Linked DNA regions of Homo sapiens. The protein of the gene in region 1 purifies or fractionates together with the protein of each later gene. This does not show direct contact. Each region holds a gene or a part of one and is shown in the gene's direction. Other genes may lie near its edges.

Evidence for each region.
Region 2: the proteins of MMP13 (region 1) and MYCBP2 purify together in Homo sapiens (affinity purification with mass spectrometry; one large-scale study listed by BioGRID and IntAct). This does not show direct contact.
Region 3: the proteins of MMP13 (region 1) and FBXO45 purify together in Homo sapiens (affinity purification with mass spectrometry; one large-scale study listed by BioGRID and IntAct). This does not show direct contact.
Region 4: the proteins of MMP13 (region 1) and PEAK1 purify together in Homo sapiens (affinity purification with mass spectrometry; one large-scale study listed by BioGRID and IntAct). This does not show direct contact.
Region 5: the proteins of MMP13 (region 1) and SPRYD3 purify together in Homo sapiens (affinity purification with mass spectrometry; one large-scale study listed by BioGRID and IntAct). This does not show direct contact.
Region 6: the proteins of MMP13 (region 1) and GID4 purify together in Homo sapiens (affinity purification with mass spectrometry; one large-scale study listed by BioGRID and IntAct). This does not show direct contact.
Region 7: the proteins of MMP13 (region 1) and MKLN1 purify together in Homo sapiens (affinity purification with mass spectrometry; one large-scale study listed by BioGRID and IntAct). This does not show direct contact.

Annotation. Positions count from the first base shown.
Region 1 is NC_000011.10:102,942,495-102,945,732, reverse strand, and holds the end of MMP13 (collagenase 3 preproprotein), read left to right. Parts: coding exon 1-87; intron 88-1,366; coding exon 1,367-1,467; 3' UTR 1,468-2,738; downstream 2,739-3,238. UniProt on the Homo sapiens protein: Plays a role in the degradation of extracellular matrix proteins including fibrillar collagen, fibronectin, TNC and ACAN.
Region 2 is NC_000013.11:77,096,595-77,100,094, reverse strand, and holds part of MYCBP2 (E3 ubiquitin-protein ligase MYCBP2), read left to right. Parts: intron 1-1,081; coding exon 1,082-2,725; intron 2,726-3,500. UniProt on the Homo sapiens protein: Atypical E3 ubiquitin-protein ligase which specifically mediates ubiquitination of threonine and serine residues on target proteins, instead of ubiquitinating lysine residues.
Region 3 is NC_000003.12:196,578,660-196,582,159, forward strand, and holds part of FBXO45 (F-box/SPRY domain-containing protein 1), read left to right. Parts: intron 1-3,500. UniProt on the Homo sapiens protein: Component of E3 ubiquitin ligase complex consisting of FBXO45, MYCBP2 and SKP1. Functions in substrate recognition but also plays an important role in assembly of the complex.
Region 4 is NC_000015.10:77,410,105-77,413,604, reverse strand, and holds part of PEAK1 (inactive tyrosine-protein kinase PEAK1), read left to right. Parts: intron 1-3,500. UniProt on the Homo sapiens protein: Probable catalytically inactive kinase. Scaffolding protein that regulates the cytoskeleton to control cell spreading and migration by modulating focal adhesion dynamics. Acts as a scaffold for mediating EGFR signaling.
Region 5 is NC_000012.12:53,072,891-53,076,390, reverse strand, and holds part of SPRYD3 (SPRY domain-containing protein 3), read left to right. Parts: intron 1-579; coding exon 580-655; intron 656-1,171; coding exon 1,172-1,296; intron 1,297-1,606; coding exon 1,607-1,742; intron 1,743-2,919; coding exon 2,920-3,105; intron 3,106-3,500.
Region 6 is NC_000017.11:18,045,908-18,049,407, forward strand, and holds part of GID4 (glucose-induced degradation protein 4 homolog), read left to right. Parts: intron 1-3,500.
Region 7 is NC_000007.14:131,397,376-131,400,875, forward strand, and holds part of MKLN1 (muskelin), read left to right. Parts: coding exon 1-1; intron 2-1,862; exon of another isoform or gene 1,863-1,865; coding exon 1,866-2,058; intron 2,059-3,500. UniProt on the Homo sapiens protein: Component of the CTLH E3 ubiquitin-protein ligase complex that selectively accepts ubiquitin from UBE2H and mediates ubiquitination and subsequent proteasomal degradation of the transcription factor HBP1.

The DNA of each region.
Region 1 (3,238 bases):
ATATTATGGATAAAGACTATCCGAGACTAATAGAAGAAGACTTCCCAGGAATTGGTGATAAAGTAGATGCTGTCTATGAGAAAAATGGTAAGTAGTTACATTGCACTGACTTTAAAGAGGAGCTTCTGTAGCCCCTCAAAACTCTTTTCTGTACAAAGCATTTTTATATAGGACCTAGATGTGTTAATAAATGTATGGCAGTTAAGGAATTAATTGTTCCTGTGTGACTACCTACAAAGACAGCAAACCAAAAAAAACATGGTTAGAATAAATAAGAATTTTACTTAATGATTGCTAATTCTATAAATACGAGATGCTAAACCTTCAACATTACCTTAATCTATGCTTAAAGATGCCAAAATGCAAGGATATTGCCAGAATTCAAACTGGCTGTGGAGTGGGAAGTAATTTATATATAAAGACTCATAACTACCTTAACTATATAGTGACTTTTTACTTTAATTATGTTCTCAACCTTTTTTTTTTTTTTTGACAGAGTCTCACTCTGTCACCCAGGCTGGAGTTCATTGTCGCAATCTGAGCTCGCTGCAACCTCCGCCTCCTGGGTTCAAGAGATTCTCCTGCCTCAGCCTCTGGAGTAGCTGGGATTACAGGTGCCTGCCACCATGCCTGGCTGATTTTTGCATTTTTAGTAGAGATGGAGTTTCGCCATGTTGGCTAGGCTGGTCTTGAACTCCTGGCCTCAAGCGATTCACCCGCCTCGGCCTCCCAAAGTGCTCAGATTACAGGCCTGACCTCACCGACCTCCTTTAACTATGAAAAGAGATATTATTGATAACTTATAACAAATAGGCTGGGTGCGGTGGCTCATGCCTGCAATCTGAGCACTTTGGGAAGCTGAGGTGGGCGGATCACTTGAGGTCAGGAGTTCAAGACCAGCCTGACCAACATGGCGAAACCCCATCTCTACTAAAAATCCAAAAAAAAAAAAAAAAAAAAAGCTGGGAGTGGTGGCATGCACCTGTAATCCCAGCTAGTCAGGAGGCTGAGGCAGGAGAATCACTTGAACTTAGGAGTCAGAGGTTGCAGTGAGCCAAGATCACTGCCACTGCACTCTAGCCTGGATGACAGAGTGAGACTCTGTCTCATATACGCACACAAAAATCGATAATCCAAGTAGCAAAACTGTGTAGGAGGATTCACACCTTAAAAGAACAACTAAAAAATAAAAATAAAAAAATAAAAAATTTAAAAAGGAACAACTATTAAAGAACTAATAGAGTTTAAAAAGAAAAAGTTTGAAATTCCTACAAATGGGATCTAAGAGATTGAACCATTAATATTAACTGGATTAAAACCTTATTATTTTCAAACTCTGAAATTGTCTTTATGCTTTTTCTTATAGGTTATATCTATTTTTTCAACGGACCCATACAGTTTGAATACAGCATCTGGAGTAACCGTATTGTTCGCGTCATGCCAGCAAATTCCATTTTGTGGTGTTAAGTGTCTTTTTAAAAATTGTTATTTAAATCCTGAAGAGCATTTGGGGTAATACTTCCAGAAGTGCGGGGTAGGGGAAGAAGAGCTATCAGGAGAAAGCTTGGTTCTGTGAACAAGCTTCAGTAAGTTATCTTTGAATATGTAGTATCTATATGACTATGCGTGGCTGGAACCACATTGAAGAATGTTAGAGTAATGAAATGGAGGATCTCTAAAGAGCATCTGATTCTTGTTGCTGTACAAAAGCAATGGTTGATGATACTTCCCACACCACAAATGGGACACATGGTCTGTCAATGAGAGCATAATTTAAAAATATATTTATAAGGAAATTTTACAAGGGCATAAAGTAAATACATGCATATAATGAATAAATCATTCTTACTAAAAAGTATAAAATAGTATGAAAATGGAAATTTGGGAGAGCCATACATAAAAGAAATAAACCAAAGGAAAATGTCTGTAATAATAGACTGTAACTTCCAAATAAATAATTTTCATTTTGCACTGAGGATATTCAGATGTATGTGCCCTTCTTCACACAGACACTAACGAAATATCAAAGTCATTAAAGACAGGAGACAAAAGAGCAGTGGTAAGAATAGTAGATGTGGCCTTTGAATTCTGTTTAATTTTCACTTTTGGCAATGACTCAAAGTCTGCTCTCATATAAGACAAATATTCCTTTGCATATTATAAAGGATAAAGAAGGATGATGTCTTTTTATTAAAATATTTCAGGTTCTTCAGAAGTCACACATTACAAAGTTAAAATTGTTATCAAAATAGTCTAAGGCCATGGCATCCCTTTTTCATAAATTATTTGATTATTTAAGACTAAAAGTTGCATTTTAACCCTATTTTACCTAGCTAATTATTTAATTGTCCAGTTTGTCTTGGATATATAGGCTATTTTCTAAAGACTTGTATAGCATGAAATAAAATATATCTTATAAAGTGGAAGTATGTATATTAAAAAAGAGACATCCAAATTTTTTTTTAAAGCAGTCTACTAGATTGTGATCCCTTGAGATATGGAAGGATGCCTTTTTTTCTCTGCATTTAAAAAAATCCCCCAGCACTTCCCACAGTGCCTATTGATACTTGGGGAGGGTGCTTGGCACTTATTGAATATATGATCGGCCATCAAGGGAAGAACTATTGTGCTCAGAGACACTGTTGATAAAAACTCAGGCAAAGAAAATGAAATGCATATTTGCAAAGTGTATTAGGAAGTGTTTATGTTGTTTATAATAAAAATATATTTTCAACAGACAATTGCTATATGGTACATTGTCTTTAGGTATAATTTCAATCTTTCCTCACCCAAAGAGGGTTCATTGCCAATATTTTTATTTTTGGAGACAGAGTCTCTCTCAGTTGCCCAGGCTTGAATGCAGTGGTGTGATTCCAGCTCACTGCAACCTCCACTTCCCGAGTTCAGGCAATTCTCCTGCCTCAGCCTCCCAAGTAGCTGGGATTACAGGTGAGCGCCACCATGCCCGGCTAGTTTTTGTATTTTTAATAGAGATGGGGTTTCACCATATTGGCCAGGTAGTCTTGAATTCCTGATCTCAGGTGATCTGCCTGCCTCAGCTTCCCAAAGTCCTGGGATTACAGGTGTGGGCCACTGCACTGGACCCTTCTTTTTTTTTCTTTTTAAGAAAAGATGTTTAGGCCAGGTTCAGTGGCTCATGTTTGCACTCCCAGCACTTTGGGAGACCAATTGTTTGGGCCCAGGATTTCAAGATCAGCCTGGGCACCATGGTGAAACA
Region 2 (3,500 bases), on another chromosome or scaffold:
TGGATTTTCAGTTTTTTATACCACTTGAAACCCTTCAGTCAGATTGCTTTTCTCCTAACAACTAACTGGTATCACTTGCACTAAGAGTAGAAGTTTTTATTTTAAGGAGGAAAGGTGATGTTGAAGTTTGTACCATTTACTTGGGTCACAGACAGCCTGGCTCTAATGCCTCAAAGAAAAGCATAAAATAGAATGAAGGAGAGACACTGAATGAAGGCAGGGTGCTAAAAACAATTAATGTCCATGCAGAAACATCTAATGCTTTGCCTTAGAAAAGGGAGGTGATTCTTCTTTTCATCCTGTTTTTCTGTCATTCTCCTGACTCCTTGTTTTGAGGGTCCACAGTTCAGACTTTTACCACTCATTCTGAGGATCCACCGTTTCTGTGGTTTCCAAGGGAACACAGGCTCTGAGTTCTAAGCAGCTAAGCTTCCTGAACTTTTGGAGTGTAACCTGTTTATAAATAATTAAATAACAGCTTCAGGGCATTCATGTGCTCATTGTAAACTAGTCTAATCTGATCATAAAACAGAGTGCCTCTTAAGCAACTCTTTGTTAGCCTAATTGTATGCATACACTTAAAAATTATAATTGTGTCTATGCATAAATTCAGTTCTCTAATTCAACAAAACCCATACCGTTGCCCTAAGGATGCGAGGTATCACTCTGCTGGAAATTTAGCTCTACTCTACATTTAAAATACAAGTTTTCACATTAAATAATTTCTTATTCCCCAAAAGATTAATTTCTGTCTCTTTCTAGTCCCTCACTGAATTTAAATTCTAACTAGTTATTGCACTAGGGCAGAGGTTGAGATATCACTGATAGTTCACACTGGATTTGTTCAACCTGTTGTTTTGCGTCCATGAAAATAGTTTTTGGTGGTAATGTTGTGTAATGATGTGTAGAAATTTTATTAGAAATATTTCCCCCTTCTTTCCTTTATTCTTCAAGTATTTTAGTATGTATGACAAACAATATAAATTTTGTAGCTATGTTTTTTTATTTCAGTGTTTAGTGGCTAAATTATCAGTAAGTTATAATTTTATTAATAAGTTTCACTGTAAAATGGACCATACAGGTGATCGAGGAAACATCTCAACATCTTCTAAACCAGCCTCTACATCAGGAAAATCAGAGCTGTCCTCTAAACACAGCAGATCGCTTAAACCTGATGGACGTATGAGCCGGACTACTGCTGATCAGAAGAAGCCAAGGGGCACAGAAAGTTTATCTGCTAGTGAATCCCTCATCTTAAAATCTGATGCTGCAAAGTTGAGGTCAGATTCCCACAGTAGGTCATTATCCCCCAACCATAACACCTTGCAGACATTGAAATCTGATGGGAGGATGCCTTCTAGCTCCAGAGCTGAATCCCCAGGACCAGGTTCTCGGTTGTCATCTCCTAAGCCAAAGACTCTCCCAGCCAATAGGTCTAGCCCATCGGGTGCTAGTTCTCCACGCTCCTCCTCACCACATGATAAAAATCTACCTCAAAAAAGTACTGCTCCTGTTAAGACAAAGCTTGATCCTCCTCGGGAACGTTCTAAATCAGACTCTTACACACTTGATCCAGATACCCTCCGCAAGAAGAAAATGCCCCTCACAGAACCTTTGAGAGGACGGTCAACGTCACCAAAACCAAAATCAGTACCAAAGGATTCTACAGATTCCCCTGGATCTGAAAATAGAGCTCCCTCTCCCCATGTGGTACAGGAAAACCTCCACAGTGAGGTGGTCGAAGTCTGCACCTCAAGTACTTTAAAAACAAATAGTCTAACAGACAGCACCTGCGATGACAGCAGTGAATTTAAGAGTGTGGATGAAGGTTCAAATAAAGTTCATTTTAGCATTGGAAAAGCACCACTGAAAGATGAACAGGAAATGAGAGCATCTCCCAAAATAAGTCGAAAATGTGCTAATAGACACACCAGGCCCAAAAAAGAAAAATCGAGTTTTCTTTTCAAAGGAGATGGATCCAAGCCTTTAGAGCCAGCCAAGCAAGCCATGTCTCCTTCTGTGGCCGAATGTGCCAGAGCTGTGTTTGCTTCCTTCCTCTGGCATGAAGGCATAGTACATGATGCAATGGCTTGTTCTTCTTTCCTAAAGTTTCATCCTGAACTTTCCAAAGAACATGCTCCTATAAGGAGTAGTTTAAATAGCCAACAACCTACAGAGGAAAAAGAAACCAAGTTAAAAAATAGACATTCATTAGAAATATCATCTGCACTGAATATGTTTAATATTGCACCCCATGGACCAGATATATCTAAGATGGGTAGCATCAACAAAAACAAGGTATTGTCTATGCTTAAGGAACCACCTCTGCATGAAAAATGTGAGGATGGGAAAACCGAGACCACTTTTGAAATGTCCATGCATAACACAATGAAGTCTAAGTCTCCTCTTCCCTTAACTTTACAACATTTAGTGGCTTTTTGGGAAGACATCTCTTTGGCTACTATCAAAGCTGCTTCCCAGAATATGATTTTTCCAAGTCCTGGTTCCTGTGCAGTTCTTAAAAAGAAAGAGTGTGAGAAAGAGAATAAGAAGTCCAAAAAGGAAAAAAAGAAAAAAGAAAAGGCAGAAGTTAGGCCCAGGGGTAATTTGTTTGGAGAGATGGCCCAGCTGGCAGTAGGAGGACCAGAGAAAGATACCATCTGTGAACTGTGTGGGGAGTCACATCCATACCCGGTGACCTATCACATGAGACAAGCTCACCCAGGTAAATGATACTGTTGAATGTACGTATAAGTGCTTTTTTCTTTAATGAACCAGATCACTTTATTTGAGCTGTTCTATGAATTTTGTCAAAGGATAGGGAATTTATAGTATCTTAGAATGTCATTTTTAAAGTACATTATCAGTACAGGGTTTTGTGAAAAACAGATAAATTCTAATATTATGATGGCCAGGTCATTTAGTGCTATTTCACTTTCATGTAGCATGTTTTAAAAAATATTATGTGTTACCCAAAGGGTGTGCCATTAATGTGTCTGTCTCACACAGCAGAAACAGTGGCATGCCCATACACACAGGGCATCTCCTTTGATTTTACTATTTTCCTGTTCAGAATTGCAAATTAAATTAGATTAGATTGATTTCTATAGGCTTTTTCCTACGGAAGTGATATTGTTTTATCAGAAGACTGCATTTTCAGTAAATGTAATGATTTCTGTAACATTGACTAATATTCCAAATTCACCTAATACAAATTTGGTTAATTTTTTTCTTTGTCTACATATTATACCTCAAATGTCTTATGAATATGTGATTTCTGAAAATATATCATTGTTATAGAACTTTTATACTTGTATTGTCTAATTTTATTGACATAATTAAGTATATCTAAATATACCTATATTCTATCTCTCTTTTAATATGCCTGATTAGAAACTAAGTATCTCTCATATTTGGGGCATCATTTAATTGATTGCTTTTTGATCAAGTAAGCTATTTTTCTGATATAGTTAATAGCCTGAAAAATAAGATATCTACTT
Region 3 (3,500 bases), on another chromosome or scaffold:
GTCCAGGGGCTGTAGTTTGCCAGTTCATGCTCTATATCAAGCTTGTCCAACCCACAGCCTGCATGCAGCCCAAGATGGCTTTGATTGTGACCCAATGCAAATTCATAAACTTTCTTAAAACATTATGAGATTTTTTTGCAATTTTTTTTTTTAAAGCTGATTAGCTATCTTTAGTGTTAGTGTATTTTATGTGTGGCCCAAAACAATTCTTCCAGTGTGGCCCAGGGAAGCCAAAGGATTGAATACCCCTGCTCTAGATGGTCATCTTTCCTGTATCACGGCACATCCAAATCTTTTTCTAGGCTCCTTACCCCAGTAAATACAGCTCTGTGCATGCACATGTTTGTGGATTCAAAGCCCCTGGAGGCATCAGTGAGTTCTGCAGAGACAGGCAAATTCAGGCAAACTGCTGTATTTTTTATTCTTTTCATCTTAGGCTTAAGGCATACTCATTTGACTCAAGTTAAAATTATAGTTCCTATTTGTAAAAGCCGTATTTATTACTACAGACTTAACAGGGTGTAATATACAATAATCTGATAAGAAATTGGAAGTCTTTAAAGAACTATAGATTGCATATTTCAGAGCCACCTGTGGCGTGAAAGTTCCAGCCTCAGTAATGACCTCAAGTCAGGCATACTAAAGCAGAAGAACCAAAAATACATCCCATTTTCTGAGGTATAAAAGCTGGAAGGATTTTTTTCATGGAATGTTTCCTCACTATCCTTTTAGGCTCTGCGGATACTATAAGGAGAAGGGTGTGTAGACTTTATCACTAAAAACGAAGTCCTGTCGCCACCCTTGTAATGATTTTGTAAGTGAAAGTCCTTAAGTCTGTTTTTCAGAGAACATGCTCTATGGTTTTAGTCCTTTTAAATTTATTGAGATTTGTTTTATTCTAATATGTGGTCTGTCTGGATGAGTGTCCCATGTGTGCTTGAAAAAATGTATATTCTTTTGCTGAATGGAATATTCTGTAAATGAGAATTAGGCAAAGTCGATTGATAATGTTCAAGTCTTACATAGTGTTACTGATTTTTTTCTACCCTTCTATTATTTACTAAGAGGAGTATTGAAATCTCCATCTATCCTTGCTAATTTGTCTTTCTTCTTTTAGTTCTCTCAGTGTTTGCTTCATGTATTTTGGAGCTCTGTTACTACTGGTGCATATACATTTCTAATTGTTTTATCTCCCTGCCTGATTTATTCTTTTATTATGAAATGACTTCCTTTGACTCTAGTAATCCTCTGTCAATCTGTCTTTGTATTTAAAGTGGAGCTCCTACACAGCACATAGTTGGATCTTGATTTTTATCTAACCCAGTCTCTGTCTCTGACTTTTTTTTTTTGAGACGGAGTTTTACTCTTGTTGCCCAGGCTGGAAGTGCAATGGCGCAATCTCGGCTCACCGCAACCTCCACCTCCCAGGTTCAAGTGATTCTCCTGCCTCAGCCTCCCGAGTAGCTGGGATTAGAGGCATGCGCCTCTAAACCACGCCCGGCTAATTTAATTTTATATTTTTTTAGTAGAGAAGGGGTTTCTTTTTTTTTTTTTTCTCCTTTTGAGACAGAGTTTCACTCTTGTTGCCCATGCTGGAGTGCAATGGCATGATCTCAGCTCACCGCAACCTCTGCCTCCCGGGTCCCGGTTCAAGCAGTTCTCCTACCTCAGCCTCTTGGGTAGCTGGGATTACAGGCATGCGCCACCACACCCAGCTAATTTTTGTATTTTTAGTAGAGACGGGGTTTCACCACGTTGGCCAGGCTGGTCTCGAACTCCTGACCTCGTGATCCGCCTGCCTCAGCCTCCCAAAGTGCTCGGATTACAGGCATGAGCCACCATGCCTGGCGAGACGGGGTTTCTCCATGTTGGTCAGGCTGGTCTCGAACTCCCAACCTCAAGTGATCCACCTGCCTTGGCCTCCCAGTTGCTGGGATTACAGGTTGTGAGCCACTGCGCCCAGCTTCGGTCTCTGACTTTTAAGTGTTTAGTTCATTTACCTTTAATGTAAGTGTTGGATTGCTTGATGTTGTCCTTATCTCTGCCTCTAAAACTATGTTCTTGTTTTTTCCCCCAACCTTGTTTCTCTCTAATCTTTGCATTAGATAATTTCTTTTCCTTTTTTTTTTTGAGATAGGGTCTCGCTCTGACACCTCGGCTGGAGTGGTGCAGTGGTGCAGTGGCGTGATGATCTTGGCTCACTGAAACCTCTGCCTCCCAGGCTCAAGTGATCATCCCACCTCAGCCTCCAGAGTAGCTGGGACTACAGGTGCTCCCCACCAATGCCTGGCTAATATTTGTATTTTTTGTAGAGACAGGGTTTTGCCATTTTGCCCAGGCTGGTTTCAAACTCCTGAGCTCAAGCAGCTGCCTGCCTCAGTCTCCCAAAGTGCTGGGATTATAGGCATGAACCACTGGGCTTGACCTAAATTAGATAATTTCTGTTCTGTCTTCAAGGTTATAAATTTTTTTCTTTTGCCATCTCACCTCTGCTATTGAACTGGGCTAGTAAATTTTGCTTATTGTACACTTCAGCTTTAGAATTTCCTTTTTTTTCTTTTTCCTTTTTTTTTTTTTTTTTTTTTTTTTTTTGAGACAGTCTCACTCTGTCGTCAGGCTGGAGTGCAGTGGCACGATCTGGGCTCACTGCAGCCACCGACTCCCGGGTTCAAGTGATTCTTCTGCCTCAGCCTCCTGAGTAGCTGGGACTACAGGTGTGTGCCACCATGCCCAGCTAATTTTTGTATTTTTAGTAGAGATGAGGTTTCACCATGTTGGCCAGGATGGTCTCGATCTCTTGACCTCGTGATCCGCCCGCCTCGGCCTCCCAAAGTGAAAGTACTGGGATTACAGGCGTGAGCCACCACACTGGGCCTGGTTCTTTTTTAGAGTAAATTTCCTTTTCGAGATTCCTTATTTATTTACTTATACTATATTTGTAAAAAAATCTTTGGACATATTCATAACAGCTGCTTTGAAGTCTTTACCAAATCCAACACTTAGGACCACTTGGATTCAGCTTCTGTTGATTGCTTTTTTCCCCTAAATATGAATCACGCTTTCCTGTTTCTTTTCATATCTAGTAATTTTTTTAACTGAAACCTAGATGTGTAGATAATATGTAGTAGTAACTCCTGAATGTTTTGTTTCTAGAAACTGCTTTATTCTCTGAAAAGTATAGGTTTTCTTGTTTTAGTAGGCAGTTAACTTGCCTATACTCAAACTATAAACTCTGTCTCATGTGATGTGTGGCAGCTAATGTCTGCTCAGTTTTTTCAGCTTTGCTGCTTTTTTAGTCCTGGAGGTTTACCCTGTGCCTTTGTAATATAGTGGTCACTCAGGGATTTGGGAAGTTAATTCTCAGATTTTGGGGTTCATCCTTTCTGTGGTTCTGTTGCTTCTGGAGTTCCTCCTCTAAGTTTCCAGTTGCTCTGCCATCTCCCCACGTTTTACCCCAGCACCTAAAGATGGTAAGACTTCGCTTTCTCCACCCTGGGCTT
Region 4 (3,500 bases), on another chromosome or scaffold:
GTGGCAGTTTCTTGGTCTTTTCTTATCTTTTATAACCTTGACACAAGTATTTTGTAGAATGTTCTTCAGTTTAGGTTTGTCTGATGTTTTCTCATGATTAGATTGGGGTTATGGATTTTGGGGGAGAGTACTGCAAAGGTGAAGTGCCCCTATTATTTCATACAGGAGGTGCATGATATCAAATAATTTATCACTTGTGAGCACTCTGTTACGGTGGTTTCTGCTAGGTTTGTCCACTGTAAAGTTACTATTTTTCCTTTCCCATAGTCCGTGCACTAGAAACAGGTTGCTAAGTGTAGCCCACACTTAAAGGGATGGAAATTAAACTCCACTTCCTGGAGGGAGAAGTATAAAAGAATTTGTGGACATATATTAAAACCACCACAGTAATTGGTAAATATTTTGAGAGAGCTACTTTGAGGCTTTGCCAGTATCCTGTTTCTGCCCACTAATTTTAGCATTCATTAGTGGATCTTGCCTGCAGCAATTATTGCTGTGGCTTCTGAAGGTACTTTTTTAAATTTTCCTCATTCTTTCTACATTTATTAATTAGAATTCTTCTATAAGGAAGGTTTTCCCTTCTATCTAATCATTTATCTCAGTTCAAATTCATAGATATTTATTTTATTCTTAGTGTTAGAATTAAATGCTATCATTATTTTGTTGCTCAAATTATTCCAGTTTTGGCCCTTGGGATCTCTTTTAGGTCTACTTCTGTGTCTTTTTGGCATATTTCTATCCTTTTTTTATGCGTATGTACATGCACACTTCTTTATTCTCTGACACTACCACATGCTTCAGGTTCATCTTGTTTTTTTTTCCTACCTCAGCCCTAGAATCAATTATTTCTCTAAGGAACCTTGGTTCCTTTCATTGGAGGATGATATTTTGAAGCCAAGATCTGGATGCTAAGTGTGCTCATTGCTGTGGAGTATCATTGCTCCTAGACTTTCTCAGTGGAAAGAACTAGGAAATGCATGTATGTATACTAATCCACGTATCCATGTACAATTATGTAAAAATCTGTATTTCTGTATATAAAAATATAAATATACTGATTGTCTGTGACTCTAACTGGATATGTTTTGATACAGATAGATTTACTGATGGATTGGTTGTAGAATGTGAAAAGAAAAGAGTAATGGATCACTCCAAGGTTTTTGACTTGAGCAACTGGAAGGATAGAGTTGTCATTAATAGAAATGAGGAAGACTTGAGGACGGTGCAGAGCAGGTTTTTGGGGAGAGTTTAGGAGTTCTGTTCTAGACTGGTTAAGTTTTTGAGATGTCTAATAGACATGCTAAGTAATAGAGATATTAAGTCAGCAGTTGAACATGGGAATCTAGAGTTCAGAGAAGAATGGTCCAGGTTACATTTGGGACTTGTCAGTATAGATTAGATCACCTGAGGAGTGAGGGTAGCTAGAGAAGAGAAGAAATTTAAGGACTGGCCCATGGGGCATTCCAGTCAGAGAGATAAGGAGGAGCAGTTCCACATAATGATAAGGGCTGAGGTGTGGTTATAGGGTGGATTTCATATCATTAATAAACACTTAATACCTATTATTTGCAAGATACCAAGTTATGTTTGGGGTTAACATCACTCCCTCCATAAATTTATAAGACAAATTACAGACTTAAAAAGAGAATAGCAGTAGAAGGCCACATACCTGATAAAGATATAAAGTACTAGGGGCTGGGTGTGGTGGCTCATGCCTGTAATCTCAGCTCTTTTGGAGGATGAGGCGGGAGGATCACTTGAGGCCAGGAATTTGAGACCAGCCTGGGTAGTGAGACCCACCCCCAACCCCCATCTTTACAAAAAGTAAAAAAGTATTAGCTGGGTGTGCTGGCCCATGCCTGTTTTAGCTACTTAAGTGGCTGAGGCAGGAGGATTACTTGAGTCCAGAAGTTCAAGGCTGCAGTGAGCTATGATCGCACCACTGCTCTCTAGCCTAGGTGACATCGCAAGACTGTATTTAAAAAAAAAGGTATGAAGTACTAATGAAGCTTATTAGAGAATGTGGACATGAGAAACTATGAACTCAAATATGTGTCAGCTATATTTAAACACCGATGTAAGCATGTGTGCGTCAAGAAACTTGTCAAGGCTTTATGTACACACTAGTAATTATCAACCAGTAGAAGTTTCTCCATATGTTAACATTAGTTTCGGAGGTTGTTTCTGTTCTTACTTCCTTTCCATTATTAGGTCTTGGGTTGTTAATTGTGCCTGTAGTCATTGGCTATCAATTAAGCCACTCAGTGAACTGATGAGGAGTGTTTCTGCTGCCCTCGACTTTTTAATTTTTGGCTCTCTGCTACCTTTTCACAATCAATAGGATTTAACTTCAGACTGCATACAATCAAATGTTTCCATTTACAAGCAGGGTTGTAAATCAAGCAGGGTTGGCCTTACCATCTGCCGTGAATTTGCCCCACCTTTTTTTTTTTTTAACTATTTCTTTCACATGTGGTCTTAGACATTCACATTTATCATCTGGTTATTAAAGTCAAACCCAAAATAACAATTTTAGAATTTTAAAAATAATTACAACATGTAGCCTGGTAAACCAAAGTTTTAGTAAAACATTTTAATTTCAACCCCTTTGCATTAAAAATAGGTAGGCTTTCATTGCCAGCTGATAAGAGGTGGTAGTATGGCATGAGGCAGGCAAATAGCACCTATCTAGTAATTATTTAAGTGTCAGTCACTCTTCAGGAACTACAAGAAAAATAACAGGTGTATCTACTTTGTAGGATAGGGGGCAGGTAATTGCAGGATTCCATTCTTATTTCTACCTCCGAATAGTCGACAAAGCTATTATCCAGGTTTATGGACCAGTGTGTTGTATTTATTAGTTGTGAGAAATCTGAGCATATTTATATGCTGAGTGGAAAGAGCCAATGCATTGAGTGCAAAGACTGTATCTTATTAGCACAGTTCCTAACAAGTAGTGGATATTCAAATATTTGTTGAATGAAAGATTTCAATAAGGTACTTTACCCTTATAAAATTTAAGACATGAAGATTTATTTAGCTTGTTCAAGAAAGCTGAAGATATTAAAAATTTTCATTGTTTAAGTCAGAGTTAGTGTAAAACAAAATAAATCTGTAAGGTAACATCCTCATTTTAGGCCAAGCCAAACAAATCATACCACTTTGTAAAAACATGATCACAGACGGGTGCGATGGCTCACACCTGTAATCCCAGCATTTTGGGAGGCCAAGGCAGGCAGATCACCTGAGGTCGAGAGTTCGAGACCAGCCTGACCCACATGGAGAAAGCCCATCTGTACTAAAAATACAAAATTAGCTGGGCGTGGTGGCGCATGCCTGTAATCCCGGGAGGCTGAGGTAGGAGAATCACTTGGGAGGCTGAGGAGCTACTCAGGAGGCTGAGGCAGGAGAATAACTTGAACCTGGGAGGCAGAGGTTCCAGTGAGCCGAGATCATGGTGAGCCAAGATCGTGCCATTGCACTCCAGCCTGGGCAAAAAG
Region 5 (3,500 bases), on another chromosome or scaffold:
CCCCTTAGCTTGTGTGTGTTTCCTCCCTCTTTTCTGGCTTGAACCCCTTCCCTGACTCCTTCTGAGCCCATGCTCTCACAGAGTTCCACTGAAGGGGGAAGAAAGTAGTACTGTTTAACTAGAGGCAAGAAAGCTGAGGAGTGGGAACTGAATCACTGTCTTCCAATCGATGAAGGGCTTTGGTAAAGAGGATAGAGACCAGCCATTATTCTCCAGCTCCACTGAGGACAGAGCCAGAGGAAAAGGGCTGAAGCTGCAGCATGAGAGATTGAGGTTACACAGGGTTGTGAGACCTCTCTTAGGCAAGTAAGGGAGGCTCTACATTCTTTTCCTCCTGGAAATGAAGAAACCAGGCTTGCACTGGTCTGGTACGGGTTGGATTCCAGCTGGAGGCTGCGAGAGGAGTAGGGTGAGGTGACCTTAAGTATCTGGTTCTGATGTCTGCCGATGTACTGAAGTGCAGCCTGATGGATTCTCCTGTGTGCTGGCCCTTGCAGGGTAAGGGTGGGAGAAGCTGAGGCCCTCCCCCTACTCTTGGGCTAGGCTGCTAATGGAATTCCCCCCTCATTCCTCCTTCAGTTATCATGGAAACTCTGGTGAAGTTGGCTGCTACGTGGCTTCTCGACCCCTGACCAAGGACAGCAATTATTTTGAGGTGATCAAGGCAGTGGGTGGGCAGAGCAGGGGGTGAGCTTGGGGGTGAGATCATTAAGCCCCAAGAAGCTCCTTTACTAGATGTATGACCTGGGCCTTTTAATTTTCCATCAGGGCTGTCCTGTTGGCTGGGAAATAGGTGCAGGATAGCATGGCCCCTCATCTGAGAGATAGGTGCCCTGGAAACCTGTCACCCTGTCCCTTCTGCTCTCCTACCCCTTAGCTAGGTAGACTTTGACCCATATCCCAGACTTGACTCATGTCCCCTAACCCAAACCCACCATATAGGGACGTGAGTCCTATCTTTCTCCAAAGCTTTGGAGTAATTTTCTAAGTGAAATAGGCACCCACTCTCACCAATTGCCCCCTCTGAGTATCTTATCTTTTTTCCTGATTCCCATGTCCTTTTTCTTTTTGAGCCTCAGCGCCCTTTAATCTCTAAGTCCCCTTCCCCCACCCCCAGCAATTCATCCCATTTCCCAGCCCTGCTGACTGTGCCCTGCTTTCTTCTCTCCAGGTGTCTATTGTGGACAGTGGAGTCCGGGGCACCATTGCTGTGGGGCTGGTCCCTCAGTACTACAGCTTGGATCACCAGCCTGGCTGGTTGCCTGACTCTGTAGCCTACCATGCTGATGATGGCAAGTGAGTTGGCTCCTGTGCAACCCGGCCCTTTTCCTATGAATTTGGGAATCTTAGATCTGAAGAACTACCTTGGGCTGGCTTTTCCCATTGGGTGTTTCATAGACTTTTCTGGTCAGGACAGGGAAGTGGCCTGGCAGCACCCTTGAAGGCTTACAGACTAGAGGAGGGTGATGCTCACGCCAGGACGTAAGTGGGTACCATCACAGAATGACCAGGAGCAGCAAGATGAGGATGAGGCCTCTGCTGTCAGTGCTGGGGAGAAGTTGGGAGGCCAGGCTCGGGTCCTGTGTCTGTACTACTCTGTCTGTAGGCTGTACAATGGCCGAGCCAAGGGCCGCCAGTTTGGGTCAAAGTGCAACTCCGGGGACCGGATTGGCTGTGGCATTGAGCCTGTGTCCTTTGATGTGCAGACCGCCCAGATCTTCTTCACCAAAAATGGGAAGCGGGTGAGTGGGAAATAGTGGTGGGATTTACGTGGCTGAAATCTGCCCAAGGATTTGTGGGGAGTGATTAGGAAGAGTCTGCTGGCTGGGGCTTGCCCAGGGACCCTTGCACTGAGTTCCCATCTCCTCCAGTCCAGCCTCAGATTCTCCTGAAGTCTCTTGCGTGTAGGAGAAGATACTTCCCATGGCCAGAGGAAGCTGGGACATTGCCCAGATGACAGGCAGAGAGAGGCAAGTTAGTGGAGCAGAGGATGAGCAGGAATTGTGGGGAACAGAATTGGGTGATTTGGGGGAAGGTTTTGAGCAGATAAAAGAGAGGGGAAGATTATGGCCTGGCCATGTAAGCTGGAGGTCCTCTTTGGGTTTTGACTTGAGCACTTTTGGGGATATGTCCTTTCTGTGTCCTGTTTTCCTTGTTTCACGTCTCTTTCACTATCCTGTTCGTAGAGAGACTAGGCGTGGTGAGGAGATGGGACAGGAGCCAATAGTAGAGAGAGACACACAGCTCTCTCCCTTCTCTCCAACTCCATCTCCCACATTGGGAAATTGGTTTCTCAGGCCTTGGCCAAGGGGTCCTGCTGCCTTAGCATCTGCGCCTCGGCACTCTCCTGTCCAGCACACGTACTGAAAGTATTTGGCAGCAAGTCAGGAGACTTGTGTTTGTCTTCTAGCTCTGTACATACCTTGCTTAGCCAGGAGTACTTAGCACATTTGGAAACTTTTCTGCACCTCTGGGTTGCTTTTTTTTTTTTAATCTGTCAGTGTGTGTGATAATTATTGGTTGCATCATCTTTTTTTTTTTTTTTTTGAAATGGAGTCTCGCTCTGTCCCCCAGGCTGGAGTGCAGTGGCACCATCTCGGCTCACTGCAAGCTCCGCCTCCCGGGTTCACGCCATTCTCCTGCCTCAGCCTCCCGAGTAGCTGGGACTACAGGCGCCCGCCACCACGCCCGGCTAATTTTTTGTATTTTTAGTAGAGACGGGGTTTCACCGTGTTAGCCAGGATGGTTTCAATCTCCTGACCTTGTGATCCGCCCACCTCGGCCTCCCAAAGTGCTGGGATTACAGGCGTGAGCCACCACGCCCGGCTGGTTGCATCATCTTAAAAGTACCCTTGTGAGAATTAGGTGAGCTATGGAAAAGCAGGCCGGGTGGCAGCTCCGTCTTTCCCCCCACTGCAGGTGGGCTCTACCATCATGCCCATGTCCCCAGATGGACTGTTCCCAGCAGTGGGCATGCACTCCCTGGGTGAGGAGGTGCGGCTGCACCTCAACGCTGAGCTGGGCCGTGAGGACGACAGCGTCATGATGGTGGACAGTTACGAGGATGAATGGGGCCGGCTACATGATGTCAGAGTCTGTGGGACTGTAAGTAGCGGGTGGGAGGGTGGGAGGGGCTGGGTCGGAGGAGGCTGGGCAGAACACCTGTGGGCACATGGTCATGTCTGAATTGCTGGGAATGGGGAGTCGGGACAGTGTCCGTGTGGGGTTTGGCAAGATAGCCTAGGCTCTTGACATGAGTCCTTGAGTCCAGATCTGTGTTTTCTTTAGCACATGTTCTCTTTTCTTCACTTCCTCCTCTTCAGGGAACTCAGGTTCGCAGTTTGACCCTGGGAACAAGTAGTTCTGCTTTGCCTTTTTTGGTTCCTTCAGCTTCTGGTGTCTTCTACAGCCCTGCACAACTGCCTTTGAGGGGCTGGGGGTTGATCTGGAGGCAAAATGCCTGGCCCAGGCTTTTCATTCAAAGTGTTGTGGGGCAGGTG
Region 6 (3,500 bases), on another chromosome or scaffold:
AAAGAAAAAAAAGGGGAAGTGACCATCTAGTTTCCAGCAGAAGTACCTGCTGTGCAGAGTATTTTATTTTCTTTGAACCAAGTTTTTAAACCTCAGAACTCCTGGGACTTTAGAAAGCAAGGAGGAGCATCCTTTCTTTTCCATTAGCAAGGAAACAGGAAGTGGAAGGAGGTAGCTGGACTGGCCCTCCGAATGCTGGGAATGCCCAGGCTGGACCTAGCTGCAGGGGGCCTCTGGCCTTTGTCAGCTCTCATGGTCTGATGATCCAGCAGTATTTGGACAGAGTGCTGTGCTGGATGGGGCAGTGGAAAGGAGCTGGGGTGGCATTCTTCTTCTGCCCCTTCCTGCATCTGTGACCTTTAACTTCTTTCAGTGTCCTCATCTGCGAAGTTGAGAATTAAAAATTCCTGCTCCAGGCTGGGTGCTGTGGCTCACACCTGTAATCCCAACATTTTGGGAGGTCAAAGCAGGAGGATCACTTGGGGCCAGGAATTCAAGACCAGCCTGGACAGCATAGCAAGACCTTGTCGCTACAAATAATTTTTAATAAATTAGCCAGGCATGGTGTTGTGTGCCTGTAGTCCTAGCTACTCAGAAGACTGAGGCTGGAGTATCGCTTGAGGCTAGGATTTGAAGGCAGCAATGTGCTGTGATCATGCCTGTGAATAGCCACTGCACTCCAGCCTGGGCAACCTAGGAAGATCCTCTCTCTTTAAAAAAAAAAAAAATTGGGGTCGGGCGTGGTGGCTCACACCTGTAATCCCAGCACTTTGGGAGGCTGAGGTGGATGGATCACCTGAGGTCAGGAGTTCAAGACCAGCCTGGTCAACATGGTGAAACCCCATCTTTACTAAAAATATAAAAATTAGCTGGGCATGTTGGCAGGCACCTGTAATTCCAGCTACTCAGGAGGCTGAGGCAGGAGGATCGCTTGAACCCGGGAGGCGGAGGTTGCAGTGAGCCAAGATTGCACCATTGCGCTCCAGCCTGAGCAACAAGAGCGAAACTTTGTCTCAAAAAAAAAAAAAAAAAAAAAAATCCCTGCTCTGTCTAAGACAATCAGTGGACTTGTTCTGGGGGTAAGGAAAGAATGTTAGAGAAAATGACAGACTCAAATATGGTACTAATATGTGATTCTCTTGTAAAGTCCTGATGAGCCTCAGTCTTAAGACAAGTTTCTGGCTCCTGGTTCCTATCTGCTTTTCTATTAGAAGCTTAACTGATTAAGGATCTCCTATGAAGTTTGTTGTTGAGACCAAAGGTATTTCTTCTTTAACTCGAGAATTGTATCAAATCAAGTAGGAGTAGAAGTGATAGCAAAATACAGGATTCCAGCCTTTGGGTTTGTGGTAGGAGAAAAGATACTAAAACAGAATATGCTCAACTCTCAGGTAGCCAAATACATTAGTTAACTGGGTGCAGAACATAAACACTGAATTTCATAAGGAAACCAGCAAGTGTGTAAGGCATTGGAATGTTAACGCTGACTCCAAAACCAGTCATTTGGGTGATAACAAGCTGCACAGAAATGGTAAGTAGCATTCGAAATCTTGAAGAAGTATACAGAAATGCTAATGGCATTGAGCTCTCCATCGGGAACAAGTAGCCCTTCCTTTAGGAAGCCCCCGTGAGTCGAGAGCAGCAGTCAGGCTCCTTTGAGGAGGGGGCACTGACAATGGCCCTTCAATGGGGGCTAACCCAAGGGGAGCCCTAGGCTCTTAACAGAACCTCTGCAGATGGCGTGGCCTCGATGAGCACATACCCTCCCCAGAGTTGCCTGTTCCTGGTCCAGCAATAAATAGACCACGTTATGCTGCTGCAGGGGTGTTGCGTTAAAGCAAGTCCTGCTCAGGCCTTAGATGTAGAAGAATTCTTTTTAAATAATGTTTTTTAGTAGCTTTATTGAGATAATTCACATACCATACATTTCACCCATTTGAAGTATACAGTTCATTGGTTTTTAGTGTATTCACAAAGTTGTGCAACTATGTGATAACTTTTTTTTTTTTTTGAGATGGAGTCTCGCTCAGTCACCCAGGCTGGAGTGCAGTGGTGCAATCTCGGCTCACTGCAAGCTCCGCCTCCTGGGTTCACGCCATTCTCCTGCCTCAGCCTCCCGAGTAGCTGGGACTACAGGTGCCCGCCACCACACCCGGCTAATTTTTTTGTATTTTTAGTAGAGATGGGGTTTCACCGTGTTAGCCAGGATGGTCTCGATCTCCTGACCTCATGATCCGCCTGTCTCGGCCTCCCATAGCGCTGGGATTACATGTGTGAGCCACCACGCCTGGCCGATAACTTTTTTTTTTTGAGACAGAGTCTCAGTCACCCAGGCTGGAGTGCAGTGGTGTGATCTCACCTTACCACAACCTCTGCCTCCCAAGTTCAAGCGATTCTCCTGCCTCAGCCTCCCGAGTAGCTGGGATTACAGGCGTGCGCCACCCTGCCCAACTAACTTTTATTTTTAGTAGAGACAGGGTTTCGCCATGTTGGCCAGACTGGTCTCGAACTCCTGACCTCAAATGTCCACCCTCCTTGGCCTCCCAAAGTGTTGGGATTACAGGCGTGAGCCAACGCACCCAGCCTGATAACTTTTAAAATTATAAGTCTAGTATATGGTTGCCGTAGATAATAGTAAAATGCAGAAAACTACAATGAATCTTTGAATAAATTTTGTACCTGTATTTGGGTTTTTTTTCTTTTCCATTTATGTTTGTTAAAATATCAATTTTTTATTTTTATTTTTTGTTTTTGAGGAAGAGTCTTGCTCTGTCACCCGGGCTGGAGTGCAGTTGTGTGATCTCAGCTCACTGCAACTTCCACCTCCCAGGTTCAAGCAATTCCCATGCCTCAGCCTCCCGAGTAGCTGGAATTACAGGCATGTGCCACCACACCTGGCTAATTTTTATATTTTTAGTAGAAATGGGGTTTTACCATGTTGGCCAGGCTGGTCTTGAACTCCTGACCTCAGATGAACCACCCACCTTGGCCTCCCAAAGTGCTGGGACTACAAGCATGAGCCACCGTGCCTGGCAAAAATATCAAATTTTTAATTTATTTTAATTAAACTATAATTTGGGTTTTAGTCATAGTAGTTGCCTTCCTCACGTATACAGTATGGAAAAGTATCTACTAAAATGGAGATAGGCCAGGCACAGTGGCTCATGCCTGTAATCCCAGCACTTTGGGAGGCTGAGGCAGCTGGATCGCCTGAGGTCAGGAGTTTGAGACCAGCTTGGACAACATGGTGAAACCCCATCTCTACTAAAAATACAAAAATTAGCTGGACATGGTGGCGGGCACCTGTAATCCCAGCTACTCAGGAGGCTGAGGCAAGAGAATCGCTTGAACCCAGGAGGCAGAGTTTGTGGTGAGTTCAGATCATGCCACTGGACTCCAACCTCGGCAACAGAGTGAGACTTCGTGTCAAAAAAAAAAAAAAAAGGAGATAAGTGTCAAAAAAAAAAAAAAGGAGCTAAATGGCCTCTTAGCTACCTCAC
Region 7 (3,500 bases), on another chromosome or scaffold:
GGTAGGACTGTGTTTTAAATCCTGACTTTAATGCCTATAAAAGGAGAAATATGTCAATCTCTTATCTTCATTGAGAATAATTTAAAATATTCAAAATAATAATAACAACAGTTAGCTAACATTTTATTAAGCACTTCCAGTCTGCCAGCTTTTAAGGAATCCTGATAACTCACTTAGTCATTATCACTCTATGAGACAGGTGCACTTATTATCCCCATTAGTTTATAGATGAAGAAATGAAGAACAGAGAGATTAAATAGTTTGCCTAGGATCACACAATTGTAAAGTGTTTGAGCCAGTATATGAATTCAGGCAGTTTGGCTCCACAGTCTGCTTTTATGTTATTATACCCATTTGACTCTGAATTTTGTTTTTTCACTTGTATTCATATAAATACTTAAAACATAGTTTTTAGTGGGATAGTTTTGCAGCCTAATGGAAAATTTAAGATGTGGATGTGATTTAGACTCCTAAAGTAGTCAACAGGGTTAAAAAATACTGCTGTTTAATATAACTGTAATATATATTGTTACATGGTAGTTATGATAAGTCTTTTTTAGAGGCCAAGAGTAAGTTAATTATAGTTAACTAATTATAATTAAGTTGTTAATTAATTATAGTTAATTATAACGTGTAAGGATTAGGTGTTTAATGACCTTTTATTAGTTAAGTCAGCTATCAACTGATTTGTTTCAAATCTTATACATCTTCCTAAACACATTATTTTCTTGCCTTATTAAAGGGTCATGCCTATAAGTAAATCATTGTTGTTTGATTATCATGCAGGCTTCCATGTCATCTGTTTGTTTGAATAGTGGTATACTTAGGAAGTTTGAGGTAGTCCCAGAACATATTCCTGAAGTTGAGATTTTTTTAAAAAAATCCTTTTTATAAGATTGTATTTTTGGCATCTATCCTATTAGGGGAAAATTTTAATAAATTAAGTGCCTGCTTTTTGGATTCCAGTTAATTGAGATGTCTACTTTATAGCTGCTTAATAGATGAGGTAGTTCAGGCTTAGAAAACAATTAAATTGGGCCGGGCGCAGTGGCTCACACCTGTAATCCCAGCACTTTGGGAGACCAAAGTGGGCAGATTGCCTGAGGTCAGGAGTTCAAGACCATCCTGACCAACATGGTGAAACCCCGACTCTACTAAAAATACAAAAATTAGCTGGGCGTGGTAGCGCGTGCCTGTAAGCTCAGCTACTTAGGAGGCTGAGGCAGAATTGCTTGAACCTGGGAGGCGGAGGTTGCAGTGAGCTGAGATTATGCCGCTACAGTCCAGCCTGGGAGACAGAGCAAGACCCTGTCTCAAAAAAAGAAAGAAAAAAAAAAAGATTAAATGTCTCTTTTTGATGATTTTTGAGTCATAAAATGTGTTTGTAAATTTGAAATATCTGTATACTTGATACTTGTCATTCAAGTAATAGTTTATTTTTAAAAACCAAAAATAGCATAATATAATTTATGTGGATTATTTAATGTTCTTTTGTGCTCTCAGTACCTGCATTGTAATGGGATTAATAGATGCTATGGAGTTATAATTTTTACAGTATTAAGTGGAGTTTAAGAAATAGATGTTCTCCCTTTCTTCAAAGTTGAGGCTCTGGAATTAGGTTTGGTTTAATAACTTTTGGCTACATATTTTGTGACCTTGAGCAAGTTATTGGAACAGGCCAAGCTTTAGTTTTGCTAGTTAAAAGAGCCAAATAATGATACCTAATGAATCAGGTTAGTAAACTGCTTGGCACATAGTGTTAATAAATGCTCAGTGTAGATTAGTTATTTTTACTGTTGTTATTGTTTCCTACAGTATCATCTAACCAAATCTCTTCTTTCCATACTTACTCTGTGTTCTAGTAGTACCGTGAACAGGAAGCTATTCGCCTTTGCCTAAAACACTTCAGACAACACAACTATACAGAAGCTTTTGAGTCACTGCAAAAGAAAACCAAGATTGCACTGGAACATCCCATGTTAACAGATATTCATGACAAGCTGGTGTTGAAGGGTGATTTTGATGCTTGCGAAGAGTTGATTGAAAAGGCTGTAAATGGTATGAAACTTAGATTGGTTATTAGGGTAAATTCAAGTACATACGGGAAACTTTTTCTCAAAAATAATATAGGCTTATGCCAGTTATTACTGTAATTTTTTTTCTTGGTTTTTTACTCGGTTAAAGATTGTTATCTCTTTGGATTAGGGACTTCTTTCATGTAAAATAGATCCATGATGTAATGAGACTTAAAAAATTGAAATGTACTTGAACTCACATATAAATTTAAGTTGTCATCTTGGGAAACCATGCACTTACAAATGATTAACTAGCATTAAACTGTATCAGAAATAATATTTTGATATTGGTAGCCAATATTCATTAACAGTGTAGTTTTGAGGAGAAGGGGGGCTAGATAATAAAAAATGTTATTAGTAAACAATTATATATAAGGAACAAGGAGATTTGTATTGAAAACAACTTCCTTGTGGTGTGAATGCTATATAATTGCTGATTTTCTTGTGTGACCTGTAGTCTGGCTTTGAAAGAAATGTGAATAGTTGAACATCTGTATTATCTCCCAGGGTATTGGCTTTGGAGGGTAACACTCATTTGGATTTTTAAGGTCTGATGTGTTTTGTTATTTAAACTAAAAAGGGACTCTGTTGTTGCTTATAGTATGACTTTTTTTTTTAATCTTCCTCAGTAACTTTCATAGTGACAAACAACAGAATAGTTGCACAATATAAAACTTGTGGAATTGAATTTGGTGCATCCTTTATAGGAAGAAATAAGAAATAATAGATTATTCAGTGGTTTGCTCTCATTTTAATTTTATCACTGTTATTATCGTCTATTATTAGGTATTCATATTTATCAGATATTGGGTAGCTAAAAAAAAACCAGACTTGTACTGCCTTGAGTTTATAAATTTAAAGTTAACTTAAAATGAATTGCTTTGAGCTCCACTTTTTGAAATATGACAAATCTGCTTCTAAGCCTTGTGCATTGTTATTGCTTACTTGATTGATGATGATACTTGCAAATAAATGATAGGTATGTTTGAAATTGAGTATATTTTGGAGTATAAACAAACAAATAACTAATCTCTTAACAGACTTTAAAATGCTACCAATAAAAAAAAAATATATATATATATATATATATGCCATTTCTAGGAGTGAATTCTGTGGGTTTTTTTTAACCTCATAAGATGAGGGAGGCATAGGTAATTTTAGGGCTTTTTTGTTTGTTTCAGATATTTATCAGTAAGGCATTTGATACCATTTTGTGAAGGGAAAGCAAAACAACAGCCACAGGCAACTCTACAGTTAATAAGCTAAAAACAGTTATATTTTAAAGGTCTCTTTAGTGACGTACTCAGTTGGTTAAGATTAGCTGATAAAAATCTTGTGCAGTTTTGATATCTACAGAGACTTAACTTATCCTTTGGCTCTAGAAAGGAACCAAGTTTAGAGAAATTAGTAGTTGCTCAATTCTTG